Regions from separate parts of the Homo sapiens genome. Here region 2 is linked to region 1. The links come from fine-mapping of genetic effects on gene expression. A gene starts in region 1. The other region holds a variant in brackets. All regions are shown on one strand. Distances are from middle to middle. Region 1 holds the start of ANXA11 (annexin A11). Region 2 overlaps ANXA11 (annexin A11).

Region 1 (8,518 bases):
TATTTATACAAAAAGTAATAAAACTGAATAAGTCATAAAAGGATAAAACAATATTAATTTGTATAAGCCTAATAATTTGCTCTCAAAATTATAAGGCTGGCCGGGTGAGGTGGTACATGGCTGTAATGCCAGCCACCTAGGAGGCTGAGGCAGGAGGATGGCTTGAGGTCAGGAGTTTGAGGCTGCAGTTATAATCACACCTGTGAATAGCTACTGTACTCCAGCCTGGGAAACATGGTGAGACACTGCCTCTTAAACAAAAATCAAAAAACCAAAAAAAATAGTATAAAGCAAAATCAGACTAAATTAGAGGGAGAAATTGACAAACTACAATAAAAGTGGGAAATGTTAAACCTACTCTTTCAGAAATCAATGGATTGAACAGGAGAGAAAAAAAAAAAAAACCCAGGAGATAAAAGATCTAAATAACCTGATTAGCAAGCTAGATGGAGAGATATAGAGAAAAAAAAACCACATAAAAAGTGAAGAGACGTTCACAAAAATTGGGACAGCCAAAAAAAGTCTGTATATGAGGCCACAAAGGAGGCATTAACAAATTCTAAAAGAACACATTTCCTCATCTCCAAGCATTAAAGTTAGAGATCAATGACAAAATGATTGATTTATTTTTATTTAAATTTTTTTTTGTAGAGGGGCTCTCACTGTGTTGCCCAGGCTGGTCTTAAACTCCTGATCTCAAGCGATCTTCCCACCTTGGCCTCCCAGAGTGCTGGGATTACATGCCTGAGCCACTGGGCCCCTCCCCAAATGATTATTATTATTTTTTAAAAAACTGAAGTTTGAAAACAAAAAAAGAATGGAAAATATACGTCTAAATAATCCATGAATTAAGCATACAATCCTAACATAAAAAACAAAATATTGGCCAGGCACAGTGGCTGACGCCTGTAATCCCGACACTTTGGGAGGCTGAGGCCGGTGGATCACTTGAGGTCAGGAGTTGGAGACCAGCCTGGCCAAAATGGTAAAACCCCATCTCTACTAAAAATTAAAAAATTAGCCGGGTGTGGTGGCGTGCACCTGTAATCCCAGCTACTCAGGAGGTTGAGGCAGGAAAATCTCTTGAACCCGGGAAGTGGAGGTTGCAGTGAGCTGAGATCTTGCCACTGCAGTCCAGCCTGGACGACAGAGCGAGACTCTGTAACAACAACAACAACAAAATCCAAATATGTATAACTAAGTGATAACAAAAGCATAGCATATTAAAACTTGTGATATTCAGCTAAAGCAGACTTTTGAGGGAAATGATAGTCATATATACTTATTAGAAAACAACAAAAGAGGCCGGGTGCGGTAACTCACACCCGTAATCCCAACACTGGCCCTAAAATTAAAATTTTTAAAAAGGAAGCTTATATACCATACTACTCAGAGCTATATAGCACGTCACCATTTTTTACAGTGCACTCACCTTCCCTTACCTTGTATGATGTTTCTATGAGCCCTGGGAAACAATGAAGCAGGGGTGATTTTATGGATTTTTATAGGTCACGTTGAAGATTTTATAGGTGAGAAAGCCGAGGCTCGGAGGATGCATGACTTGCAAGTGTCAGAATCAGAACTAGAATAGATCCCACACATTTGAACACCGAGTTTGGTGTCTTTTCCTTCACACCGCGTTCTCTGGGGGTGCCTGGGCGGTGACCCCTGCCATTGGCCTTGAGGATTAGGGCCTCAGCTCGGGTCCTCTGCAGAGCCTCCTCAGTCCCTAGCAACTTGCTGGCACCTAGCCGGGGCTAAACGCAGGTTTGTTGAAAATTATAAAAGGGTAAGCCCAGGGGTAGCTATTCACCATTCTGGGTTTGAAGAGCTCTGATGCAGAAAGGTGTATACATCCAGCAGGAATTCCACCCTACATGATTTATTATAAACGTGGTATTCTAGGAGCATTCGCTCAGCCACGGAGAAAAATGGGCCTTTCGAAGAAGCTGGCCTTCGCGGTCGCTGTGGGGCGGCAGAGCAGGCGCAGGCGTCCAGGCAGTGGGGGCTGGGTAGGCGCCAGGAGACCTTCCCGGACCAATCCCCGGGCCCAGAGAGAGCGCCTGGAGACCTTACCTCCCCAGGAAATTCACACAGATTTCTTGGGGGCTTCACACCCGCGCCCCCAGTCCCGCCATCTCCTACGCCGCAGCAGGCGCCCCCACCAGGGTAATAACCCACTCTGAGAGTCTCTGGTGGTGCCTCTGATCCTCTGCTCTTCTGTTCCAGGCAGCGTTTTCTCCGAGCGGCTCTGGAGACTTTGGCCTGAGTTTCACCCTCACTCGCCGACTCATGTCCAAAAAATGCAGTCCAGCCCCGAAAGAGAGCCGCGCCTGCTGGTGGGGGTAGGGGGTGTTGGAGCGGCCACGGAATATGACTGAGCGCCCGGGGCCCGTTGTGAGGCCGGGGCCAGGCTGTCCCAAGGCACCGTTCCTGCCCGGCACCAGCACACCTGCCCAGACAGGGAGAAGGTCGGAGCCTCCCCTCCAGTCCTTCCGGATTTTATTGTTCAGAGCGACTTTAAAACGCAAATCGGGCCGGGCGCGGTGGCTCACGCCTGTAATCCCAGCACTTTGGGAGGCCGAGGCGGGCGGATCATTTGAGCCTAGGAGTTCGAGAACAGCTTGGCCAACATAGTGAAACCCCGTCTCTACTAAAAATGAAAATTAGCCGGGCGTGGTGGTGGGCATCTGTAGATCCAGCAACTCAGGAGGCCGAGGCAGGAGAATCGCTTGAACCCGGGAGGCGGAAGTTGCAGTGAGCCGAGATCGCGCCACTGCACTCCAGCCTGGGCGACAGATCGAGACTCCGTCTCAGAAAAAAAAAAAAAAAAAGGAAAATCGAACCAGCAGCTTGTTTGTAACAGCCAAACATAGGCAACAACCTAAATGTCCTTCAGTAAGGAGCTAGGTAATGAAGAATGGTGAAGCGCACGATGGCGCGCAGTGTGCAGTGGATGGGAAGAACCAGGTCTGTTCAGGAGCACTTGTATGGAAAGACCCTCCAAGATATAGTGAGTAAAAAAACATGTTGCAGAAAAGTACTGCAATATCGTTTTGTAAACAATACGTTTATGTAAACACACACACACAGTGTTAAAGAGAGATATTTGGAAGGACACACCTAAGAGTGGGCTGGGGGAGTGGAGGGAAGAGTGAATCTCAATTTTTACTCATTTTTTGAATTTTTTATTTTTAGTTTTTTAGAGACTGGGTCTCACTATGTTGCCCAGGCTAGTCTGGAAGCCCTGTCTTCAAGCCATCCTCCTGTCTTGGCCTTCCAAAGTGCTGAGATTACAGGCGTCAGCCACCACTCATTAAAAAAAAAAATTGTATACCTACCATATATGCATATATTACCTGGGTGACCTTTTAAAAATATGCTTTATTTTTAGAACATCTTTAGATTTACAGAAAAAGTGTGAATACAGGGAATTCTCATAAACCCGGGCTTTTCCTATTATTAACATCTTAAGTCATTTTTATATCTCCGTGGGTTCCTCTTGGCTGTGACAGTGTCCTAGACTTTCCTTGTTTTTGATGACCTTGCTAGTTTTCAGGAGTACTGGTCATGTATATGGCAAGGGCCTCAATTGATTTGTGATGTTTTCCTCATGATTACAGTGGGGTTAGGTGTTCTTGGGAGGAAGACCACAAGCGGTGCATGCAATCAGTATGATTTACCCCTGTCGAGGTCACCTTGACGGCTGGGTGGTTTGTCAGGTTTCTCCACGATAGTCACTGACCGCTCCCTTCCTCACATACTGTGCGTGACCTTCCCCCCTCCACCACCACCGAGTGTTGCTATAAAGGAAATGCGTTTGACCTTTTCAGTGTAAAAAGTTTTCTCGACCTTAAAGAGAGTCACTAACCGACGCACACGGGGCTGGAGAGGACTTAGGAAATGCCCACCCCTGCAGGAGGGCGAATGCGGCTCTGCGCGGCACTGGGCGCCGCAGGGGTTAGGGGCGGCAGAGGGACCTCCGGAGCCCGAGACTTCCTGGAGCAGCTCCGCAGCCGGAAGGCTGCTGCTCCTCGCGGGCCCGCCGTGCCCAGTCCTCATCTTGGGGGCGGGGCCGCGCTCAGGCCCCGCCCCTCCCTTGCACTGCCTCTGGCACCTGGGGCAGCCGCGCCCGCGGAGTTTTCCGCCCGGCGCTGACGGCTGCTGCGCCCGCGGCTCCCCAGTGCCCCGAGTGCCCCGCGGGCCCCGCGAGCGGGAGTGGGACCCAGCCCCTAGGCAGAACCCAGGCGCCGCGCCCGGGACGCCCGCGGAGAGAGCCACTCCCGCCCACGTCCCATTTCGCCCCTCGCGTCCGGAGTCCCCGTGGCCAGGTGAGTGAGGGTCCCGAGCCGGCTGGGGGCCTGGGACCAGGCGGCGGCAGTGCACCGCGGCGCCGCGGGTGAGGCCCGGGGCTGCCTGGCGCCCAGCCCAGCGCGGCCCTGCGGCTTCCTGGTTGCACTACAGGCGTGGGGGTGGGGGGCAGGGGAGGGCGTCGGCGGGTCGCGGGCGGGCCGTGTCGGCCTGGCAGCCCCCTAGATCAGCCTCGGCGTCTGGGGCTGCTCCCTCATGTGTGGTCGGGGTGCACTCGCCGTCCCCCCGGGCTCAGGGGTCGGGGTCTCAGTCTGGGCCTGGGTAGGGCCAGGGGCCGTGACCCTGGGCGCAGGAGGCAACGGGTGGCGGGAGGGGTGCCGGAGGCCCGGCCCCGCAGCCCTGCGGAGCCCTCCAGGGTGCGCGCGCCCTTCTAGGCGAGGCTTGGGGAGATTAAGCAGAGAAGGCTATCTTCAGGAACTTTCCTCCGAAACTGGGAGCACGCACATTCCTGGGAGCTGCTACCATTGCAGTTTATTTGTAAGGAACTCTCCCCAGTGTTTGAGGGAATGCGGGAGCCATCCCAGGTGCTGTGCGTGCCTTCGCCCCTTCCCCAACCTTGATCCCCAGTTTCAGGAAGGGATTCCTGGACTTGTATCTCCCATGGGTGCAGGCCAGGCCCTTAAGACTTAGGTAAAATGGTCTGTTGGTTTAAAGGAGACACGCGAAGTTTGTTACCTAGAGACTTTGGAGGGGAAAAGTTAAGCCAGCCAGTGCTAGCCCAAGCTGGAAACAGTCAGCCCGGGGCATTTCTGTCTCTGCCCTCCAATCCTTGACCTCTCTGTAGAGATTCGGCGTTTGTGGTAGCTCTCCCCTCTGTTCTCTGCGCTGGGCATGGAGTGGAGCTGTGAGGCCGAGCCCCTGCCCTGCCCTGCCCTGCCCTGCCCACGCAACAGGGACTAGGTTTGCAGGGCAGGGCCTGGTATGCTCACCCTTCACTGGCTCTCATTGCTTTCCTCATTCCTTTTATGCGGCAGTCAATTGTTGGGGATTCCAGGGGATTAACAGGGCCCCTTTCCTCAAGGCATTCTTTGTGCTGCAAGGTGTTCCCTGATAAGAGAGGCCAGGTGAGGTGCCAGGGCAGTTTGTTGCCCTGGCATTGGGTGCCCACTACTTCAGGCTCCTGCATACCTTGCTATCTTTTCTTTGACTATTGTCTGTGCTTTGGTTTTTCATCTGTAAAATGGGGGTAATAGTAATCCCTGCCTCACAGGCTTGTGAGATTCAGTGCATTCATTTATTTAATAACAATACAGAGCTCAGGTACGGACCAGTCAGAACAGGTGGTGACTGCTGCACCACACTTGTGTATCCCAGATGGGTGTCACCCACATTAGCCATAAAGTGTGTGAGGCAGGCCTGGGTCATAAATAATCAGGTGTAAGGGTCAATAAATAGTAGCAGTGGAAGGTTCAGCTAAAGTTGAAATGCACTTCTCCTGAACCGTCTTTCTGGCTTAGCTCATGCTAAGCTCATGCTCTCTGTCTTACTGGAATGCCCTCCCTCCCCTGTCTGGCCTAGCATTCTCCACCCTCCTGGGAGCCATCCGGGTGCCTGCTCCCAGCAGGAGGGACGGGATATGCTCTGAGCTCACTCAGCCCTTCTGGCACTGACTCGGTTCTCATCTCTCGCCTTGCATAGTATTTGTGTGGCGGTGTGGCTTATCGCTGCCCTGTCCTCTGACTCTGGAGGGTGGGGGCTGTTTCTGACTTACCTCTTGGTGGCAGCACTCAGGATGGGCCTTGCCTAATGTAGGTGCTCAGAAAATTAGTTGTCGTTAGTTGAACAACAGAGACAGCACAGGGAAGTGGTTTCCCTGTGGTTAAAATATAGGACCTTGAAGGCTGGGTTTGGATAGAGAAACGTGGGGAGGGTGAGATGGAGATGAATTGGGACTAAGAGGTGGGAGTGGAAGCCTCACCTGACGCCTTTATGCATGATACTATAGAAAGGGCCCACCCTGGGTGGATGTGTCTAGAAGGCCAGGATCGATTAGTGATGCCTAGTTCACGTGATTGGGGAGGTGATGTGTGGCTTGGGATGACAGGAGTGGGAGTTGAGACAGAATAGGTTAGTGTGGGTTCTTCTTGGAAATTGTAGAATAGAGAAAAGAAACTGGTGTGGGCAGGAGCTGAATGTGGAACCAAAATGCATGCTGAATGCTGGAACATCAGAGGTCCTGGGACCTTTCTGGTGCACCCCCTCCTTCCTCCTGGATTCACCCCTCTTCTTCTGCTGTCTTTTTTTTTTTTTTTTTTTTTGAGACAGATTTCGCCCTGTCACCCAGGCTGGAGTGCAGTGATGCAATCTTGGCTCACTGCAACCTCCGCTCCCTGGGTTTAAATGATTCTCCTCCCTTGGCCTCCCGAGTAGCTGGGATTACAGGCATGCACCACCATGCCCGGCTAATTTTTGTATTTTTAGTAGAGACGGGGCTTCACCATGTTGGCCAGGCTGGTCTTGAACTCCTGACCTCAGGTGATCTGCCTGCCTCAGTCTCCCAAAGTGCTGGGATTACAGGCATGAGTCACCGTGCCCGGCCTCCTCTCTCTTCTTAGCCACTGTTTTCCCCCGTAAGCCTGAAGCAGTTCCTGGCACTTGTTCCCATGGGGAAGCGTCTGTGTAAGGGTATGCTTCACCAGCACTGCCAAGGAAGTAGACTTTTCACTTTCTCTGGATTTTTCTCTGCAACACCCTCTGATCCCATTGCCCCCAGAATAGTAGGAATTTTGAGTGATACCTAGATAGGAAAGCTCTTAGGATTAATGAAGAAACTGAGATTTTCTTGGTGGGAGTTTGTGCTTTTAAAGGGAGTTGTTGCAATTCAATGGAACTCTGTAATAACCACTGAAACTGTTACACATTAGGCTTACTGACCCTATCTCCTATAACCCATGAAATAAAGACCTGATAGTCACATAGTTGTTTGCTATTTGGGAGGATCCTAAAAGTACAGCCTGAACAGTGACCCAAACCACAGCTGGCCTTGCCCATGCTGATGTGAGGAAGGAATGGGTGGGGGCAACTAAGAAATTGGGGGACAGAGTTCTCTGTGCTAGGTATCCTAGGACAAGCCACCCAGCCACACAGAGACCCCCCGCTTCCCCCCCACAGAACAGTTCTGGATGATAAAATGCCTGCCTGGAATGGAGAATCAGATGAGAAGATGTTTGCAAAGGGGTTTGAGATCAGTTAGCGGGTGGTGATGACAATGTTGATACCGTGGGTGTGTGACTGCCAGGAGCTGTGAAGCAGAGGGTGGAGTGTGCGGTGGTCAAAGCCTGGTTCTGGGATCTCTAGCTTTCCAGGGGCTTAGGCTCCGCCTTAGCAGAAAAGAAGGAAAGGAAATTGAGAAGGAAGTCAGGTGTCCCCTGCCCCTCACACTTGGGGATGGCTGACTTGGAGGACATGAGATGGGGGAAATCTGAGTGAGGGCAGAGAAGAGAAATGTGGAGGCTGCTCACAGGGAGGCTAGGGAGCATATGGCATATCCAGCCTGGGGAGTGGCACCACTGGGGGAAAGGGTGCGTGTGACAGTGGGGAAGGAGTGGTGATAACAGATGTGAGCTTGCTGTGTCCACTAAAAAGGTCACGGCTATTTTTAGGAAGTAGGTGACAAGGCATGTTCCTGTAGAACTGCTTATTACTGAGAACCCACTGTTGGCCTCGCCCTGCGTGGTGTGCTTAAAAGGAGAGACCGCCCCCACTCACCCTAGAGTCATCCACCTGGTGTCCCTGAGACATGGGACACTGGATGAGGACCAGGTTTGGAGGATGAAGAAGATCATGTATTTGGTTTTGGACATGTTGTGTTTGAGGTGTCTTTGAGATACCAAATAAGCTGGTGGGTCTGGGGCTCAGGAGGCGTCTTGGCTAGACAGACATTTGTCTAGGTTGTGTTTGTATTTGAAGTCATGGGCACAGCGAGATTGAAGAACTCACCTCGAACAGCTGAGTAAAGGAAGATGAGCCTATAAAGGACCCAGAAAAAGAGCGACCTGAGAGGGGCCCAGAAAGCCAGGACAGAGTTGTATCCCAGGGGCCAGGGTGAGTCTGCTTCGTGGGATGGAGTGGTCAGCTTGGCATCGCGGCTGTGGTGAGTGATATGGAGGAGATGTGGCTGCCTTCACTGCTTTGGTGGGATGATGTG
Region 2 (8,518 bases), 47 kb after region 1:
CTGCCCTGGTCTCAGACCTGCTGCTCCTGCAGGGTCTGCCTTATTCAGTGTCTCTCTGGCTGGTAACATCCATTCCCATTCTGGGAGTCAGGGCTGGACACGCCTGGGGCTCAGGGCTCTGGCTTTTGCTCCAGCGAGAGTTTTGCATGCCACTTTTAGCGGGGCAAAAATTGTCTCATGCTCTGCCTTCTCAGTCCAGAGCTGCTTTGGCCTCATCTTGACCTGTGGGATCTCAGCCCCTGATTGCTGCTTTCTGCTCTTTTTCAGGGCTGCTACCTGAGGCCTAGCAGGCACTTTAGAGGCCATCTAGTTCAGAGGTTGCAAATTGGCAAATACTTTAGGCTCAAACCTTCAGAAGTTTACCAGGCTCTCCTGGGTGACCTGGGCCTGGGGTCTGGGTGTGGCCTGTGCCACATGTGCGTCTTCCTCTCTCTCCAGGAGCTGTATGCGGCCGGGGAGAACCGCCTGGGAACAGACGAGTCCAAGTTCAATGCGGTTCTGTGCTCCCGGAGCCGGGCCCACCTGGTAGCAGGTAAGGCAGGCTGGGGTCCCTCAGAGGCCAGTTAGATGAGGGCAGTCAGGGGATTGTGGGGAAACAAAGCTATGGGAACACTTGGTCGTTCCTCCCTGCGTGGGGCTTTCGCCTCCTCAAAAGAGCCCCCTGGTGGGAATTTAAAAGACACTGTCAGAGGGTTTCCTGAGTTCTGGCAAACATCCAGTTCTGGAGGTTCTACCGGTGTAGAAACCTGGTGTCTTTGTACGTGGGAATGTGGAACGTCAGAGTTGGGAGGGTCCTTCGGGAGCACCCAATCCAGTGTTTTCCAAAGCCTGGCATAAGAAACAGTCATAACAATAAAACTGGGTGCCATTCATTTACTCATTCATTCAACAGATGTAAATCGCGCTCCCGCATGGGTCAGTCTGTCAGGTGGTGGAGCAGGTGTGGGGCCACGGTGGGGGGCAGGGCACTGCAGAGTGTGTTCCATGGGCTGCACTTTCTCATTTGGGGAGACAGACAGTAAACAACAATGAAATAAAATCTGTATCAGATGGGAAATCCTGTAGAGGAAAATCAAGCTGGAAACAGGTAGGGAGTGATGGTAGGGTCCACCGGGAGGTGCTTGGGCCAGTCCCCACTGAGGTCGTGACATTTGATTTAAAAACCTAAAGGGAGATGCAGGGGCAGAGGCCTGCCTGGGGCTCCCAGCACGACTGAGAACAGTGAAGGGGGACCATGTGGAGCAGGTGGAGTGAGCAAGAGGAGTGGGAGGTGAGGGCAGAGAGGGGAGAGGGCCCTGCTGATGACTTCCCGGAGCTGGGTATTTATCCTGAGCAAAAGAGGAAGCCAGTGGAGGGCCCTGAGCAGAGGAGGCTGTGCAGAATCCCTGGCTGTGGTGCCGAGAATGGAGTGAAGGGTGCAAGGCCAAGCAGCGAAGCCTGTCGGGAGGCTGCTGCAGGGACCCGGGGAGGAATGGTGGTAATAGGGGCTTGTGGTGAGGAGGTGTCAGGTTCCGGCCATGTTTGCTGATGAATTGGACACGTGACGTGTGGGAGAGAGAGGGTTCGAGGATTATACAGGGTTTCTTTAGGCCAAGCAGTGGGAGAATGGCCCTCAACTGAGACAGGGGGACTGTAGGTGGAGCTGGCTTTAGGTGCCTGTAGGGTGGAGCTGCAGGGAGGCTGCTGGGTTGCTGAGTGTGGAGGTCAGGAGAGGTCTGGCCTGGTTGTGGAAGGTAAGGGAGCTATGGGTAGTTGAAGTTATCTGAGGCTCTGGGACTGCAGGAGGTCCCCTCAGGAGGGAGACTGTGGGGAGCCCACCGGTGTGAGGAGACTAAGAAGGAGCAGCTAGGGAGGGAGGAGGACGCAGAGGAAGGGGGTCCTGGAGGCCAGTGTGAGGTGGCAGGCAAGGACTGAGGATGGTGACCACACGGAGCAACTGGTGGGCTGTGGCCAGGGCTGCTCCAGTGGGCAGTGAGGGTGAAAACCCAGCGACCGCTCTGTGCTGCACACAGAGACAGGCGCTGTGGCTCTCCCCATTCGCAGCTGTGAAAGCAGGCACAGGGTGGTAGAGGAAGTAGGGGTGCACAGCTAGTAACAGCTGAGCTGGGATTTGAACCCAGACCACCCGACCCCAGAGCACACTTTTTAACCTCTGCACTATCCTGTAATGGAGCCTGAGTGAAAGCATTTTCATCTTAATCATTATTTCTTTTAATGAGTACAGAACATGTAAGTAGTGCATCAAGCCCATGGCTTCACAAACATTATTACTTAGGAGAAAAGAGTAGCTGATTGGAAGAAGATATTAATTGAGACAGATACACACAGAGCAGAAATCACAACTTTAAAATGCAAATGGTAGCTGAGACTCAGGCTGGGGAAGGAGAGTTTTATGTCCTGGGTCAGAACTGGAGTCAGGACCAAGGTCTCCATCATGCCACCTGTCTCTCTAGGAGCCAGCCATCCACTCCTGTGGGTGCTTAGCGTGTCCTAGGTCGAGGTGAGCAGCAAGAAGCCAGGCTGGCTGGGGCAGGCTGGGCCTCAGCTCACAGGCAGGCTGAGGAAGACAGATGGATGCATGAATAAAGCCAAGGAATGGCAGAGACTGGAGGTGTGGAGGATTTGAGAAGAGGGGACACTGTCTTGGAGTACATGGGAGTGGGCCCTGGAGGGGTATTAAGGTGCGATTTGGTTAAGCAGATTGGCAGTCCTGAGAAAGGGACCACACAGGGAGGGACATCAGGTGGTGCATGTAACTTGTGACGAAGACTCTGACTTCCTTGAGCGCTAGCAGGCCTGGGGACGTGCAGGGTGTGGGAGCAGAGTGGCAGGTGGGAGATTTTGGGGCAGAGGCCACCTCATGTGAGTCCTCTGTTAGTCTGCTCATGCTGCCATGACAAAATACCACAGACTGGGTGGCTTAAGCAGCAGATACTCATTTTGTTACAGTTTTGAAGGCCAGATATCCAAGAGTGGGGTGCCGGTTTCTCCCGTGGCCTCTTCGTGACAATCACTGTGCTCACATGGTCTTTCCTCTGCATGTGCACATCCCTGGGATCTCTGTGTGTGTCCTAATCTTCTCTTCTTCTAAGGAGACCAGGCGAATTGGATTAGGGTACACCCTAGCAGCATGTTTTAACTTAATTACCTCTTTAAAGATCTTATCTCCAAACACGGTTATATTCTGAAGTCCTGGGAGTTGGGACTTCCACATATGAACTTTGGGGAGACACATTTCAGTTCATAATATAAGCCTCTGTCATCCCCATAGTTTTCAATGAGTACCAGAGAATGACAGGCCGGGACATTGAGAAGAGCATCTGCCGGGAGATGTCCGGGGACCTGGAGGAGGGCATGCTGGCCGTGGGTAAGTGTCTCAGGTTTGCCGCCCACCTGCCAGGGGCTAACGTGTATCGTGAGTGTTCAGGCTGCTCGCCTGTCCTCCAGCTGATGGGTGACACCGTGAAGGGACCACAGGATCCAAGATCGCTCAGCCCAGAGTGTCCAGATGCTGGGAAGTCATGCTGCTTCCCGGTTCCCTGTGCAGTTGAACCCCTAGCTGTCCTGGAGGTGTCTTGTGTGTGTTTGCGGTGCAGCTCTGGAGTAGGGAACTGCAGTGTGGGTATTAGTGGGAGGGCATCCAACTGCGCTCCCGGAGGAGTATGACTCATATCCTGCCACGTTTCCTCTAAAAATACATCCCTGCAGGCAGTTGTCAGATGTTTGTGATGGAAACACGTGGAAAGATTTTTACTTGCAGCAGCGAAACAGGCCCATGCTGAGGAAAGCTGGCTTGGCTCCAGGATGGTGGTGTGCCTCTTACATTGCCCATGTCCTCTAGCAGGGCCCTCCCACTGTGCAGAGTTGGGTCCCTGCCCTGAGGCCCTCACAACCCCTCTTTCTACTCACTTGGGAAAATCAGTCTGCCCCTTTTTTCATTATGCTTTTTTTGGAGCTTTCTGGATGGGAGAGATGGAAAATCCTCATTTCCCTGCCTGTCCCCCATAGTAGGTCTCATGGCCTGGGAAGCCTAGGGAGATGCACATTCCACTCAGCCA[C/T]GGTTTCTCCATGACGGTCATGGCCTCTCCAGTCTGCCCCTCCTGCCTGAGCAGCAGCACAGTTCCTCATCACCATCCACATTGCTTCCCTGTGTAGCTCCTAGCCCCACTAAGACCCCCGCCCCTCTGACTCTTGGTCCTTTCACCGCAGTGGTTGCCAGGAAAGAGGGTGGGTTGGTTTCCAGGCTTTGCGTGTTTCTGTTCCAAATAGCTGGAGCCAAGATCATGGGATAGTTGAGCCTGGAACAGAAGGAGGAGGAGAAAAGATGGATGCAGTGATGGGTTTGACATCTGGGCCTCTAAGAGGACACTTGTAGACTCCATGCCCTGCTTGGGCTGAGAATTTTCTGCAGATCTGGTTATGCCGAGTTTCTCTCTTCTAGTGAAATGTCTCAAGAATACCCCAGCCTTCTTTGCGGAGAGGCTCAACAAGGCCATGAGGGTATGTAACTTCCATGTGCAGGTTGCGATGGAACCTTAGCCTCGCCTGTGCCTGGGACCAAGGGCTGAGGGCAGAAGGCCTGGGGAGAGCTAAATCTCAGCTGAGAGTTCCGAGGACCTGGGTAGGGAGGGGACTGGAGGGCCCAGGGCAGGTGGGAAGGTGAGGAGGCCTGGTGCTCATGCTCTTGGGTGGACTCTCTTTAGGGGGCAGGAACAAAGGACCGGACCCTGATTCGCATCATGGTGTCTCGCAGCGAGACCGACCTCCTGGACATCAGATCAGAGTATAAGCGGATGTACGGCAAGTCGCTGTACCACGACATCTCGGTACGGGCCTGCTGCAGGCCAACTGGGCTCCCTTTTGGCATCTCAGTCACCTGTGGAACCTCCCTCCTTGGAGTGGCCATATGCTTGGCCTCTGTGCTGTGTGTGGGCATCTTGATTATGGACCTCGGACTTGTTCATCCCCTTGCCCTTAAACAGATTATAAATTTCTGAGGGCAGGTGGATCATGACCTTGCTGTCGCCCCCACCTTGCATCCCCCAGCAGCATCAGAGAACACTCGGGACCTCCCCAACCTTGACCGTGACCTTCAGCGTTCCGATCACCGTGTGATTCCTTGATCTGTCAGTGAGAACTCATGTCCCAAAGGCTCTGTGGAGCTCTGCTGTCACTCCCTGACAAAGCACTTCCTGCACTCAGCTTTATGGCGTAGGCCACATAGTAAGGCCGTTCAGAGCGAGGGCCCTGGGGGTCACGCCACTTGGAGTCCAGCTTTTCTACTTGCTAACTGTGTGACCTTGAATGGCTCCCTTAAATCTCCCTGAACCCCAGCTCCATTGTCTTTAAGATGAGAAAATAATCGTTCCTTCCTGGGAATGTTGTGAGTATTGAGTGAGGCAGTGCAGGTCAAGTGTCTATTAAACACTAGCCACAGTTGTATCGCTGTGTGGCAGAGCCAGTCTGACAAAATACATTCTCAGCTGTGTGGTCTAACGCTCAAATTCTGAACTCACATGAGCCTTGCAATTGCACCATGGGGACCACGTCCTCCCACCTTAGACTCAGTAGCATTTGATGATGGTGGGCATGTCATCACAGGAAACTCACTGTGTTTCCTTGGCTGTATGAATGAAGCTGTTGTTAGAGAATTAGTGATTCTAGGCTGGGCACAGTGGCTCACGCCTGTAATCCCAGCACTTTGGGAGGCTGAGGCAGGTGGATCATTTGAGGTCAGGAGTTCGAGACCAGCCTGGCCAACAAGGTAAAACCCTGTCTCTACTAAAAATACAAAATTAGCTGGGCTTGCCTGTAATCCCAGCTAATTAGGTAGGCTGCGGCAGGAGAATTGCTTGAACCCGGGAGACAGAGGTTGCAGTGAGCTGGGATCACGCCATTCCACTTCAGTCTTGGTGACAGAGTGAGACTTCGTCTCAAAAAAAAAAAGAGAGTTAATAATTCATTACAGAGTATCTCCTGCATGCCAGCAAGCTATGGACATCTGGAAGAAGCCACATGCCTTGCCCTCAAGTTGCTTAGGGTGGAAGGAAATGATTAGAAATGAGCCAAGCCGAGCCTGCACTCTTAGAGTAAGTGTAGTGGCCTCAGACAGAGGAGAGATCCCTGGGACCTGGGCAGTCTGAGCCTTCCACTGGACAGTCATGTGTGAGGAGATTGCATTTCCTGAGCAGGACACTGTGTTGCGTTACATTGGTAACCCCAATTTAAGGCAGCATAAATGCACTGGGAAAACAGCAATATTGGTTAGCCCTGGGAAGTGGTTTTTAGGATGATTATAATTTTTTTTTGTGGGTATTCATTTGATGTGGATAGCTGGGGTGAGTGCTGCTTTCCGTCTTCTGATGGGGGCCTGGAGAAGGCTGAACTGCATTTTTTAAGGTCTGTGACGCCTGCTGCAGGACCTGCAGTGGGAGAAAATTCCCCAGGGTGGGGCTTTCTCCCTATAAGGGTGCTCAGGGCTGAATATCAGGACCCAGAAGGCTGAAAGTGACTGTCCCTCCCTTAACGGATGTCTTCCTTGTTTCTGTGGCCAGGGAGATACTTCAGGGGATTACCGGAAGATTCTGCTGAAGATCTGTGGTGGCAATGACTGAACAGTGACTGGTGGCTCACTTCTGCCCACCTGCCGGCAACACCAGTGCCAGGAAAAGGCCAAAAGAATGTCTGTTTCTAACAAATCCACAAATAGCCCCGAGATTCACCGTCCTAGAGCTTAGGCCTGTCTTCCACCCCTCCTGACCCGTATAGTGTGCCACAGGACCTGGGTCGGTCTAGAACTCTCTCAGGATGCCTTTTCTACCCCATCCCTCACAGCCTCTTGCTGCTAAAATAGATGTTTCATTTTTCTGACTCATGCAATCATTCCCCTTTGCCTGTGGCTAAGACTTGGCTTCATTTCGTCATGTAATTGTATATTTTTATTTGGAGGCATATTTTCTTTTCTTACAGTCATTGCCAGACAGAGGCATACAAGTCTGTTTGCTGCATACACATTTCTGGTGAGGGCGACTGGGTGGGTGAAGCACCGTGTCCTCGCTGAGGAGAGAAAGGGAGGCGTGCCTGAGAAGGTAGCCTGTGCATCTGGTGAGTGTGTCACGAGCTTTGTTACTGCCAAACTCACTCCTTTTTAGAAAAAACAAAAAAAAAGGGCCAGAAAGTCATTCCTTCCATCTTCCTTGCAGAAACCACGAGAACAAAGCCAGTTCCCTGTCAGTGACAGGGCTTCTTGTAATTTGTGGTATGTGCCTTAAACCTGAATGTCTGTAGCCAAAACTTGTTTCCACATTAAGAGTCAGCCAGCTCTGGAATGGTCTGGAAATGTCTTCCTGGTACCAACTTGTTTTCTTCTGCTTGATTCTGCCCTGTGGCTCAGAGGTCTGGCCTTATCAGCCAGTGAAAGTTCATGTAACCTTACGTAGAGATTTGTGTGCAGGAAACCCTGAGCATACACTAGTTTGCAGGGACTCGTAAGGACATGGGAAGGGAGGTTCCCGAAATCCAGGCAGGAGGCCCAGACACCTGAAAGGCAAAGGGATCTTGGTTGGTTGCAGGTGCAGTGAAGTCCACTGAAGGTGTGGTGCGAAGAATGCAGTCCTTCACCCAGGTCCCAGGAGGGAAGAAGGGTGTGTGCTAATTCCTGGTGCCCCTCGGCGGGGGCCAGAGAGAAGGATGGGGACAACCCAGAGAGTCACAAGACCAGTGCCTCCCCTCAGGGTGCCTCCAGGCTGAAAGGGGCTCCTGGCTCTGGTCTCTGGGGACCCTGTGCCCGTTGGTTGGTGGTGTGAGGGAAGAGAATCCATAAGAGAGTTTCTGAGAATTATGGTGTCATGTCCAGAAGCTAGAGCTTACCTTGCATCAGGGGTCTCCACCCACTCCTTTTCCAACCTCCTGCGTTGAGGTTTAGAAAAGAGAGAATCGACTAGGCACTATGGCTCACGCCTGTAATCCAAGGACTTTGGGAAGCTGAGGTGAGAGGATCACTTGAGCTCAGGAGTTCAAGACTAGCCTAGCCAACAGCGAGACCCCTGTCTCTACTAAAAAATTTGGCCAGGCGTGGTGGCTCACGGCTGTAATCCCAGCACTTTGGGAGGTGAGGCGGGCAGATCACCTGAGGTCAGGAGTTCGAGACCCAGCCTGGCCAACATGGTGAAACCCCATCTCTACTAAAAATACAAAAATTAGCCAGGCATGGTGGCACATTCCTGTAATCCCAGCTACACAGGATGCTGAGGCAGGAGAATCACTTGAACCCAGGAGGCAGAGGTTGTAGTGAGCTGAGATCACACCATTGCACTTCAACCTGGGTGGACAGAGTGAGACTCTGTCTCAAAAAAAAAAAAAAATTTACCTGGCATTGTAGTGCATTCCCTATAGTCGGCTACTCTGGAGGCTGAGGCAGGAAGATCCTTAGAGCCCAAGAAATTGAGGCCGTAGTAAGCTGTGATTACACCACTGCACTCCAGCCTGGACAACAGAGCGAGACCTTGTCTCAAATGAG

Evidence for each region.
Region 2: its variant is fine-mapped to the expression of ANXA11 in whole blood (INTERVAL, PIP 0.99).

The regions. Positions count from the first base shown.
Region 1 is chr10:80,201,156-80,209,673 of GRCh38, reverse strand. It overlaps ANXA11 (annexin A11), which reads left to right and starts at 4,137. Exons shown (of 16, transcript NM_145868.2): 1 at 4,137-4,331. It overlaps LINC00857 (long intergenic non-protein coding RNA 857), which reads right to left and starts at 1,964. Exons shown (of 2, transcript NR_038464.1): 1 at 1,443-1,964. RefSeq lists enhancers at 1,856-2,497, 1,528-2,727, 2,498-3,139, 5,779-5,858, 6,359-6,448 and a silencer at 3,914-4,793.
Region 2 is chr10:80,153,949-80,162,466 of GRCh38, reverse strand. ANXA11 (annexin A11) reads left to right here. Exons shown (of 16, transcript NM_145868.2): 12 at 439-532; 13 at 3,272-3,367; 14 at 4,442-4,500; 15 at 4,704-4,826; 16 at 6,555-8,518. The coding sequence ends at 6,614. Among named protein-coding and RNA genes, the nearest start is that of PLAC9, 25 kb to the right of the region's middle. RefSeq lists enhancers at 3,447-3,988, 3,086-4,285. The variant C/T (reference allele first, on the strand shown) is at 4,059.